Linked DNA regions of Homo sapiens: region 1 is linked to region 2. Evidence: fine-mapped QTL for protein levels in blood plasma. A gene starts in region 2. The other region holds a variant in brackets. All regions are shown on one strand. Distances are between the middles of the regions.

The links. A credible set is the group of variants that fine-mapping cannot tell apart. PIP is the chance, under the fine-mapping model, that this variant and not a neighbour inherited with it causes the effect. Protein levels are from antibody-based Olink assays in UK Biobank. Linkage for the fine-mapping came from a reference panel and not from the study's own genotypes, which makes the PIPs less certain.
Region 1: its variant is the best candidate, but not a certain one, in a credible set for the plasma level of the GFRA2 protein (UK Biobank, PIP 0.90).

The regions. Positions count from the first base shown.
Region 1 is chr8:21,683,926-21,689,287 of GRCh38, reverse strand. No RefSeq gene overlaps it. Among named protein-coding and RNA genes, the nearest start is that of GFRA2, 100 kb to the left of the region's middle. The variant C/T (reference allele first, on the strand shown) is at 2,334.
Region 2 is chr8:21,786,013-21,791,356 of GRCh38, reverse strand. It overlaps GFRA2 (GDNF family receptor alpha 2), which reads left to right and starts at 2,482. Exons shown (of 9, transcript NM_001495.5): 1 at 2,482-3,237. The coding sequence starts at 3,198.

The DNA of each region.
Region 1 (5,362 bases), 100 kb after region 2:
TTGTGTGTGTGTGTGTGTGTGCGTGTGTGTGTGTGTGTGTGCGTGTGTGTGTGTGTGCGCACACACCCATGGCTTCACTTCTGCCAAAGGGGCTTTGTGTGAATGTGTTTGTGTGCATGCACCGATGGCTTCACTTCATGCTGAAGGGGCGTGTGTGTGTGTGTGTGTGTGTGTGTGTGTGCGTGTGCATCCATACATATGCACCTGTCTCTAGTTCCCAGCCACAGACTGTCGAATGCCTAAGATGAAGACTTTCCTTTACTCATGAGGATTGAAGCCCCAGTGTTCCCTGCCAGCTGGAGAAATTCTTTACCAGCATTTTCTGATCTGTGAAGTGAGTTGAAATTGGGCTGCCCCTCCCAAGGATGCTGAGGCTGGTCACTTACTGCATATTTTAAAAAATTTGTGTATTTATTTAAATATTTTTATTATTATTTTTTGAGACAGGGTCTCATTCTTTTGCCCAGGCTGGAGTGTGGTGGTGTGATCATAGCTCACTGCAACCTCAGGCTCCTGGGTTCAAGTGATCCTCTCACCCTAGACTCCTAAGTAGTTGGAACTACAGGTGTGTGCCACCACACCCTATTCATTTTATTATTTGGTAGAGATGGAATCCCACTATGTTGCCCAGGCTGATCCTAATTGTCTGGCCTCAAGGGATCCCCTGCTTCAGTCTCCCAAAGTCTGAAATTACAGGTGTGACCCACCCATGCTCCTGGCCCATACTGTGTTAATACAAGTAAACAGATTCATCGCCTGTTTGTTGCCCATTTTTTTAGAGTCTTAGTAGGGGTAGATAATCTTTTTTTTTTTTTTTTTTTTTTTTTTTTTGGCTGGAGTGCAGTGGTGCGATCTTGCCTCACTGCAACCTCTGCCTCCCAGGTTCAAGCGATTCTCCTGCCTCAGCCTCCCAAGTAGCTGGGATTACAGGCACCTGCCACCACACCCAGCTAATTTTTGTAAATTTTGTTTTTTTAGTAGAGATGGGGTTTCGGCATGTTGGCCAGGCTGGTCTTGAACTCCTGACCTCAGGTGATCCACCCACCTCTGCTCTCAAAGCGCTGGGATTACAGGCATGAGCCACCGTGACTGGCCCATTCATCTTTTAAAAATGGATTAAATTTTTTAGGAAAATCCAAAGTCATTTAGAAGCCAAACTGGTAAATAAGGTTGATGACATTCTCTGTGGTGGGTTTACATGGTGGAATGGCTGCCTTCTAGTCATTTACGGTGACTTTCAGGCAATCTTGTTCAATCTTGGTTGCCTCACCTACAAAATTGTATTGGATGATTCAAGTACTTTTCACCTCTAAACGAGCTCTGGAAGAGAGGAGACAGACTGAGACAGAGATGGACAGAGGCTGCTGAGGCTGACTAAGCAGTCAGCTGGGTTTTTCCGGCCCAGCACATCCCCTCCCCTGCAAGGAGTACCTCCAACGTCATGAGCGATGGGGGTGATCCCAGCCTGCCGAGGTGACCACATTGAATCTTTAAGGTCTGATGTGTGTTCTAAAAACTCAGCAGTATGGCTTCATCACTCTACCTCCTACATTCAAGCAAGTGAGTAAATAGAAAGGGCTCTGAAAACCTCACAAAGATGTTGTTTACACAATCAAGGCCATGCAGAGTGTCAATTAACCAGACATATTTGCCACATTCCTCTTTTAGTGTGAAGTGGAGTTTTTGTGCTGTACCTTCCAGAGCGGAAAAATGGTATCAAACATTTTAGGAGGATTTTAATAGCACTACTGCAAACCAAACCAAAACCAAATGTAGATACTTAAAAATATATATATTTAAGAATTAACTCATGCTTACATAGCCCTCTCCATGTGCCAGACATCATTCCAAAACTGTATGACTGTTACCTCATTTCATCCCCATTAGGATTCAGTGAGGCTGGTGCTGCAGCCCATTCTACAGACGAGCACACTGAAGTGTGGAGAGGTTACTCTCTGCCCCGAGATGCTACGGGGTGTGGCAGTGCTCAGACACAAACTTAGCAGGCTGGCTCGGGGCCCTGTGCTGTAACTGTCATGCCAGGCTGTCACCCTGAAATGAGTCACACATGCCACCTGTGTGCTCTGCCTGTGCTGACCACGGGGTGCTCCAGTTAACTGGGCTTTATCATTGCTCCTTCTCCTCCGTCTCCAGCAGCCTCATGCTTGTGCAGGTCGGCGGTGACAGACAATCCACAGATGAAGGGCTGAGTATACCTTTGTGGGCTTCACAAGGGAGCCCACAGAGCAATGAGGGGGGAGTTCTATAAGTGACTTCATTAAATCAAGTATGGTGTGGACTTGAAACGAGGGAGGAGGGAGTGGGGAGGAAGG[C/T]GGTGCCCAAGGACACAGGTCCCTGCTCAGAGCCTTTCCAGTGGGGTAGGGGGATGAGGGTGGCATTCCACTTCAGGGCTTGCCATCCTGATTTTGCTGGGATTGATAATGACCTTGCTGGGAATGGCTTTACTGGAAGCTGGCTTTTCCGGGAAAGAGACCGACCAGCTAGGATCTTGCTTGCTTGGACCTGCCTGGACAGCTCTTACCTTGGGGGCGCCATGGTTAAGAGGTTTGTAAATTTGGGAATTAGGCAGACCTGGGTTTGAGTTCCAGATTAGCCACTGACCAAGGGGGTGACCACGTCCAGTCTGAGTTTCAGTTTGCTCATCTGTGAAATGGAGATAGTGGTCCCTGCCTCCAAGGAGTGGTGTCAGGATTCAATGCAGTACCCTGCCATATGCCCTGGCATGCAGGGGTGCTCAGCCACTCCCTCGGTCCAGTGGCCACCCTGCCCCAGCCTCCAGGACTCCTCAGCACCTGCTGGCCACCGGGCTCCTTTAGGCATTGAGAGAAGCTGCACTGGGACCCATGCTTGGATCTTCTTCCTTCCTCCTCCTCTCTGTGGACTAAGAAGCTTTCACGGATTCCCCATGGCAGACGAAAAAATGACTGTGATCAGGCCCCTGGGATGTGTTCTTGCAAGCATTGCCAAGTGGAATTGAGAGGGCAGGAAGAGAGAAGACAGAGAGAGAGAAAAAAGAAACTTCCTTGTGTTGGTAAATAGAGTTGATGTGATCTGTGAGCCACTGGGGACAGTGGCTACAGAAGATGCAAATGTCACGCTCTTTGGAGTACCTTTGACTGGCTGCCTCCTCTCCACGCATGCAGGCAGAGGATGTGCTGCCGGAGCAAGTGCACCAGCTCAAAATGGTGAATAAATATTGATCAGATGTGGAGCTGAGCTGAAGGGAATGTCAACACCGATGGGAGGTGGGCAGGCATGGGGTTGCCCTGTCAGGCCTGATGCAAAAGCGGAGTGGGCTTTGCTACCTCGGGCTCCTAGGAGATTCCTCCAGGGAGAGCCCCAGGAGGGTATGAGTTCTGAGCCACCTCGATGTTTTCTAAGTAGAGCCACTTCTCCTTTGTGTGCTTTTCTGTATAGAGAAAAGGCTGGCAGGGGCTGGGCGTGGTGGTTCACACCTGTAATCCCAGCACTTTGGGAGGCCTAGGCGGGTGGATCACCTGAGGTCAGGAGTTCAAGACCAGCCTGGCCAACATGGCGAAATCCTGTCTTTACTAAAAATACAATATTAGCCAGGTGTGGTGGTGTGTGCCTGTAATCCCAGCTACTCAGGAGGCTGAGGCAGAAGAATCACTTGCACCCAGGAGGCAGAGGTTACAGTGAGCTGAGATCACGCCACTGCACTCCAGCCTGGGCAAAAGAGTGGGACTCCGTCTCAAAACAACAACAACAACAAAAAGTTTGGCAACGGGGTGAGAGTCTGATGACATAGTAAAGTCATTTCTTTTCTCAAGGAGTCTGGAATATACCAGAAGGAGTATCAGGGGATCCAGGTTCAAATGCTGGCTTTGCCATCCAGCAGCTGGTGACATCAGCTAGGTCACTGAACTTCTCTGAGCCTTGGAAAGTTTGCTCTAGGTCAGGGATGGGCACACTTTCTCTGTAAAGGGCCAGATGGTGAAAATGACAGGCCTTGTGTGCTATGCCATTTCCATTGCAACTAGCAACTGTTCTGCTGTAGTTCCAAAGCAGTCATAGGCAATGTCAATGACTAGGCATGGCTGTGTTCCAACAAAACTTTATTTACAGAAACAGGCACAGGCCAGATTTGGCTCATGGGCTGTAGTTTGCCAACCCCTGCTCTAGATGACCTCTGAGACCAAGCTGTCCACCCCAGGCAGTTGGAACTCTGAGGGTTTGCAGCGGGGAGTGACTGATGGGTGACAGGGCTGAAATCATCCTTAAGTTGGAGGAAGAGAGAGGGCACACTGGCCCATTGTGCAAAGGGAGGTGAACTCACATGGGAGTTGGTGGAGGAGAAAGCTGGGAGGAACCGTCCTGCATGCGGTCCAGAGGTGCAAGGAGAGAAGGCAGGTAGCCTGTGGACCAGGCACACATAGGTGTGGGCTGGAATGTGGGGACTTTGCTTGCCACTGTGAGATTGTACTCTGATCAGGGGCATCTGGTAAGCAGGGCGAATGGGGCTGAAAGCCAGCCACCCTCAACTCACCCATCTGTGCACCCAACCTGGGCCTCAGCCCCGAGGAGGGGGCATCATTCTCTAATTTGCACCAAGGTTTCTCTGTGTGCTTGCGGAGAACTTGTGGCCAAGAGCAAATGGAGCTGCCACCCCAGTGGCTGGGGAGGGGACAAGGGTCCTGAGTGCACAGAGAAGCCCCTGAGAGCGCTGCATGGCTGTGGGCAAGTCACTTACCCTCCCTGGACTCTCCTGCCCTCATCTTCAGAGGGAGAGGTCAGAGGGGCTGCTCCCCAACCTTCCCTCGGCAATGGGATTCTGTGATTCTGTGACTGGCAGCCATTCCTGAACTCACCGGCCTGGGGAAAAATGACTTGAAAGGAGGCAGAATTCATCTCCCTTTCAGCAAACACCGCCACATGCTTGGTTGCTTCAATTTTTCTCTGAGCCTCTAGTCCAGAGCTGTGGACTGCCACCTTAGAGCTTGCTCTGTGCGTGGCACCTTACACGCTGGCCTGTTCCCACTCCTTCAAGACAGCATTTCTTGGGAAGCCAACCTCTGGGGCCATGTGAAGCAATGACTCAGCCCCCGCCTGGCCTCCCTCCCTGGAGGAGGGCACACTTGAGTCACCACCTTGACCTAGACACTGCCCAGCATCAGAGGTCATGAAGTCTCCTACGCATGGACCAACCACCCTGGCAGAAAGTGACTAATCTCATCAAACATCTCTGTGGGAGGTTTGCACAACCACCGTGGTGAGCGTGACTGCGTGTGTTGAAGCTCTTACAGCCAGAAGAGAGTCTTCCAGGAAAAACTCTTTGATTTTTTCCAGCCCAGCACAGTGGACTGACCCCGCCCCTCTCCTT
Region 2 (5,344 bases):
TGTTCTCTACTGTTCTTGGGATGGCTGGGTGGTCTTGGGTCGCAGAAGGGCCACTTACCTCCTGCTACCGGAATCCTCTTTCCTACTCCCGTGGGAGCTCAGTGAGAACCATCCCCAGGGCTTCATTGCTGCTTTCTCAGCCCCATTTTCTGGATAGGTGGGAGGGGAGAACTACATATATGATTCAGAGAATTTCTCTCATTATGCTCAAATGAAGTTAAAAGAAAGTGAAATTCTTTTTTGTGGGGAAGGGGAGAGGGATATGCTGAGCAGAAATTCTGGAGTTTGGAGCAGGGTCCTTGGAAGGGGGAAGGCCTGCGTGAGATTCCGAAATGGGTGGTGGTGGGGAGTATTTGGACAACCAGAAGACCCTGGAAGTCGAGGAGATGAGAGGGGGGACATTCATTTAGGCCAGGCTCCCAGCCTCGGGCCTCCAGGCCAAGCCTGCCTGGCAGTGTAATTCCTGTCAAGTTTTATCTTTTAACCTACACTTATCCAAAGCCGGTTCCTTATGCTCCCCAATTTTTGGAAAAAAAGCCAAGAGACCTTGTCAGATGCGAAGTCACTTCCTAGAACATGAGAGGCTTGGAGGAATGACAGGGAGGGCAGGCCTGAAGGGGGCTTTCCCCAACTCCAATCCCTAAGCCCTCTGTCCCAGACTCGTCACTACCCAGCTAGGGCCTAGGCTCGAAGCAGGCACAACTGGATGGCTGGGGGAGAAGATGGAGGGAGGAAGGTCGATGCCCCAGGACGGACCACAGGAAAGAGGCGTTCACAGGAGACTCGCTCTCTGTGCTTCCAAGGCCGGGAGCAGCCGCCTTCCCGCCTAAATCCTCAAGATGGAAGTTGCTCCCTCTAGCTTTCCCAATAGCTAAGGCTGCTGGTTTTGTTAGTGACCCCTCCCTTCTCGTCCAAGTCGATTTCTAGCATTTACTGGATTCCAGAGTCTTGTTATTTAAGAATGCATCTTAAACGGTACTATCAAATTCATGTTACGTGCAGCCCAGATTGTTTTGGGCAGCACGAAAAGTTTCTGAGGCGCTGCGTGTACCCCACCCCAGGACACCGTGTGTGCGCGCCGAGCTGAGTGCGAGGAACGTGGCGCGAGGGCCGGGGGATGCCGGGCTGCGTGGGTGTGAGCCCTCGCGCGACCGCGACCCCGCGCCTCTCCCGCTCTCGCCGGAACGTGACCGCAGCCGCACCTCTCCTCCAGCCCTTTCCCAGCCAGACGCTTCCTTTTAGGTCCTTCTGGGCGTTTATTGTAAATTCTGCGACTAAAACACGCCGGTGAGCCCGGCCCACCGACAGATGGATCAATCGCCCCCTTCCCGGCTAGGGGAGGAGGAACCCCCCAACCCCGGAGCCTAGGGAGCCGGGAGCTGCCTCGGGACGAGCTCCTCGGAGCCCAGCCGGCTGCGGAGCCCCGGCCCGGGTCGGTCTCGGGGCCCTCCTGCCGGGGTGGGGTGCGAGCCCCTGCCCGATTCCTCTGGGGCGGTTCAGGCAGGTTTGCCGGCCTCCGAGGAGGTGGTCAGGGCGCCCTGGCCCAGCAGGCTTCTTCCCGAGCCGGGGGGAGGGGAGACCGGCTGGGGAAGGGGCATCTCGAAGGGGTGGAGGCCGGGGCGGGCGGGAGGCAAGCGCGCCGCGGGCGTGAGGGCAAAGTTCCCGAGGTCCGCGCGGAGAGCACACGTGTATGTGCGCGCGGGGCTAGGCCGGGGCCGGCAGGATGCGTTGGGTTCGGGGGCGCGCGGGGCCGGCGCCGAAGGGGATAATTCCTTTCCCTGGCACCATCGGGGAGACGCTTTGTCGGCCTCGGCTCCTGGGCGCAGGGACGCCTTAGCCCACGGAGGGTGGAGCCCCCCTCAGACCCGGGCCACCGGCTGGGGTTTTTCTAACGCCCTGCCCCCCGAGCCCCCGGATGGCTCGGGCCCCACGGACTCCGCGCCCTCCAGCCTCAGCTCAGCTCCCCAGGCTTCCCAGACCCAGCGGCGCAGGGGGCGGGGGCAGGGGCAGTGGGGGTTGGAGGGCGCAGCCGGTCCCCAGGGTGGGGAGAGCTGCGGGGGGAGGAGGAGGAGGGTGCCGACGCTTGAGTGGGTTCGAGCCCGAGCCGTAGCCGGGGGAGCCAGTCAGTTTCCGGCCAAGGCAGCAGGTCAGTCCCAGGAAGGGCGGGCGATTGAGCCGAGGGAGCCGGCGGCTGGGCTCTCCTCTCGGCCCGCGATCCCCGGCGCCGCCGCCGCCGCCACCGCCACCGCCACCGCCTTCGCCTTGTCGCCGCCGCCGCTGCAGAGCATCGTAGCTCCGCCGCGCTCCCGCGCCCCGCGCCCCGCGCCGCCAGCCGCCTGGGAGCCCGAGCGCCGAGCCCGGGGCGGAGGAGAGGGGCGCTGGCGCGAGAGCCCGGGCGAGGGAGCCGCGAAGGGAGAAGGGGGCGGGCGGAGGGAGGAGCAGGGAGAGTGGGAGAAGGGGGAGGGAGAGAGGAGAGCGAGGGAGAGCTGGAGAGAGCGAGAGCAAAGAGCGAGCGAGGGAGAGGAGAGAGAGAGAGAGGAGAGAGAAAGACACACGCACGCAGAGACACACGGTCACTGGAATTCCATTAGAAAAAAGTGAGCCGAGCAAGGGTTAGCGGGAGAAGATTTTTTTGAATCTTGTCTTCGTCTTGGTGCGAAAGAAGCGACTCCAGTCTCTCGTCCTCGAAGCTCCGACTGGATTGTTCTTGGGCGCTGACACCCGTCTGTGGATTTCTTTTCTATTTGCATTTTATTCCGACCCCCTCCCTCGCCGCTTCCTTCCAGCCCTTCACTCGCAAATCGCCTCTCTCCCCACCTCCCCAGGCCCCTCCTGGGAAGCGCAGGGGAATTGGACCCGCGGGGACTCACGCCTTCCCGGACGATTGGAGGGGAGGGCTGACCCCAGGACTGGGCTGTTGGCTTAGAAAGCCGATACACAGATACGCGTATATTTGATTGTAGCGGGCAAGGGGGGCGTCGAGAGGCAGCAGCCCATCGCCCGCCTCTCACCCCACCCCCTCCAGCCAGAGGCGAGAATCGCAGGACTCGGGATCTTCATCGGGTGGACTAGCTGGGATCTCCGCATTGGATTTGGGGCTGATTACCACTGCTTGCCTATTATTATTGTTGTTGTTACTACTATTATTTTTTTTTACCCAAGGGAGAAAGACAAAAAAACGGTGGGATTTATTTAACATGATCTTGGCAAACGTCTTCTGCCTCTTCTTCTTTCTAGGTGAGTACCTGCGGGCGGCGAGCTCGAGGGGGAGGCGAGAAGCCGGGGAGGCGGGGGGCGAGCGGAGCGCCGGTGGGGGGCTGGCGGGAGGTCGGCGGGGAGAGCGCGCCGCGGAGCTAGCCGGGCCCGGTGCTGGCGAACCGAGCGGGGCCGGGCGGCAGGGACGCGGACGAGGGACCGGAGCCGCGGCTGGCTGGCGACGCAGGGGGATCGGGAGGGAGACTCAACATCCGAACCAGCCCCGCAGACACTGTGCACGCACACACACACCCGCGCTCGCTCACACGCCAGTATAGCGCGCATCTCCCCCGAAATAATGGGTTCGAATTGCGGCAACTTAAGAAAAAAAAATATCCAACTCTTGATCTGCAAGAAGGGAGGGAGAGAGAGGCTCCTAGGCGGGGAGAGAACAGTCCTGCGGGGTCCGCCTTTCCTGGTCTGCTCCCCGAGTCGGTCGTGGTGGAGGGCGCGGGTTTCTCCGGCGGCTCCCGCTTGGACATCGCGCGGGGAGCGCTGGCAGTCACTCCCCACCTGCCAGCCGCGCCTGGCAAACGGAGCCCGCGTCCCCACGCCCTGAGCCCCTAACCGGCGGCTCCACTCCCCGGAACACTTTTCAAGTTTCTCCCCACCGAGCCCCGAGCCAGATGGGTGGGCGGGAGCGGAGGGTTGTGAGCAGCCGTTCCCGGCCTTCCCTCCTCCACCTCTGGGGGCCGCGGACCCCCGTGGCTGGTGGGAAGAGGCGGGAGGGAGGCCAAAGTTTGCTTTCTCCGTTGAAGAGGGTGGGAGGCGAGGGAGGAAAAACGGGTCTGAACAAAGACCACTGCTCCTTCTGCAAACCCCCCCCACTGCCCCCCCCGCCGCCTCCAAGACAGGGAGGAGAGGCTGCCTGGCGCCACTGAGCCCCACGCAGTTTCTTTTCCACACAGAATTCCCAGCTCCTCTCTCCCTTTAAAGCTAGGTGAAATCGCAGCTGCTTGGGAAATGGCAATCTCCGGAGGGAGGTGAGGAAAGGCGGTTGTTTGCAAGGCTGTGCACCACCGGGAGTCCCAGGCAGGGCTGCTGCCAGGGAGTAGACGCTCCCATAGAGGGAGCCGGGTAACTACTGTGTATGTGTGTGTGTGTGTGAGTGTGTTTGTAAGGAGCACACGTCTGCTTCAGTGAGGGTGTAGTTCTACCACCTTGGCTTGCTGTGTAGCCAGTGTTGAGCCAGGCTGCCCAGCGGGGTCATGATCTCACCCTCTCCCTCCTGCAGTAGGGGATCTGGGAAGGCCACGAGTGGGGAGGTAGGAGCTGGTTACAGGAGGATGTGCGTGGTCTAAGAAGTGCTCGCCAGACTAGGATAGGGGACCGGAGTCATTGGGTGTCCACACAGGCTCTGGACTCTCTGCCTGTCCCCTCTGCTTCCCGCCAGGTGCGAGTCCCCAAGGGGGCAAGTCCCTGCTCTAGGGTGTGGCCTCAGAGGTCCTACCTCCCTCAGCCAGAGGCAGCTTCTCTCTGGGGTGGGAGGGGCTCCTCTAGGAAGCTGGAAGTTGCTCTGGGCCCGCTGTGATCCCGAAGCCCTTCCTGTCAACCCTGGCAAGTGGACTCTCATTCTGAAGGGGCTACTATAAAATCTGACCTTTTTCTCCCACTGCTAGCTTGAAAACCCAGCCTTCTGGGTCCAAGCATGATCAGGGCCAAGGTGAAAAAAAAATTGTATTTCAGGCAAAACAGCCAGATTGCCTACTGCTGAGCTGCATACCCCAGCATGGGCAGGGCTCCCAGGTGTGGGCACCATCTGTGGTCGGGGGCTGGAGAAGAGCAGTGTGGGCCCCTGGTCATTGCAGGCAGGCTTTCTCCAGCCGGGCAGGCTAAGGAGTCCACCTTTCTCCTTTTCAGAAGTGGCTGGGGTTCCTGCTCGTGGTGGGTGTGTATGTGTGTGCATGGGAGATGACCAGAGAGGCCCAACCCAATGTCTGCAACCCTGGAGGCTGAGTGTTGAGAGGCGGGGGTGAGAGCAGAAGAGCAGCAGGCTCAGCATCCCCTTGCTCCACAGCCCTTCAGTTTCCTTCCCTCGAGAAGTCCCCTTCTAAAGCTGGGCTGAGTGGAGTGACCACAGATACTGAAA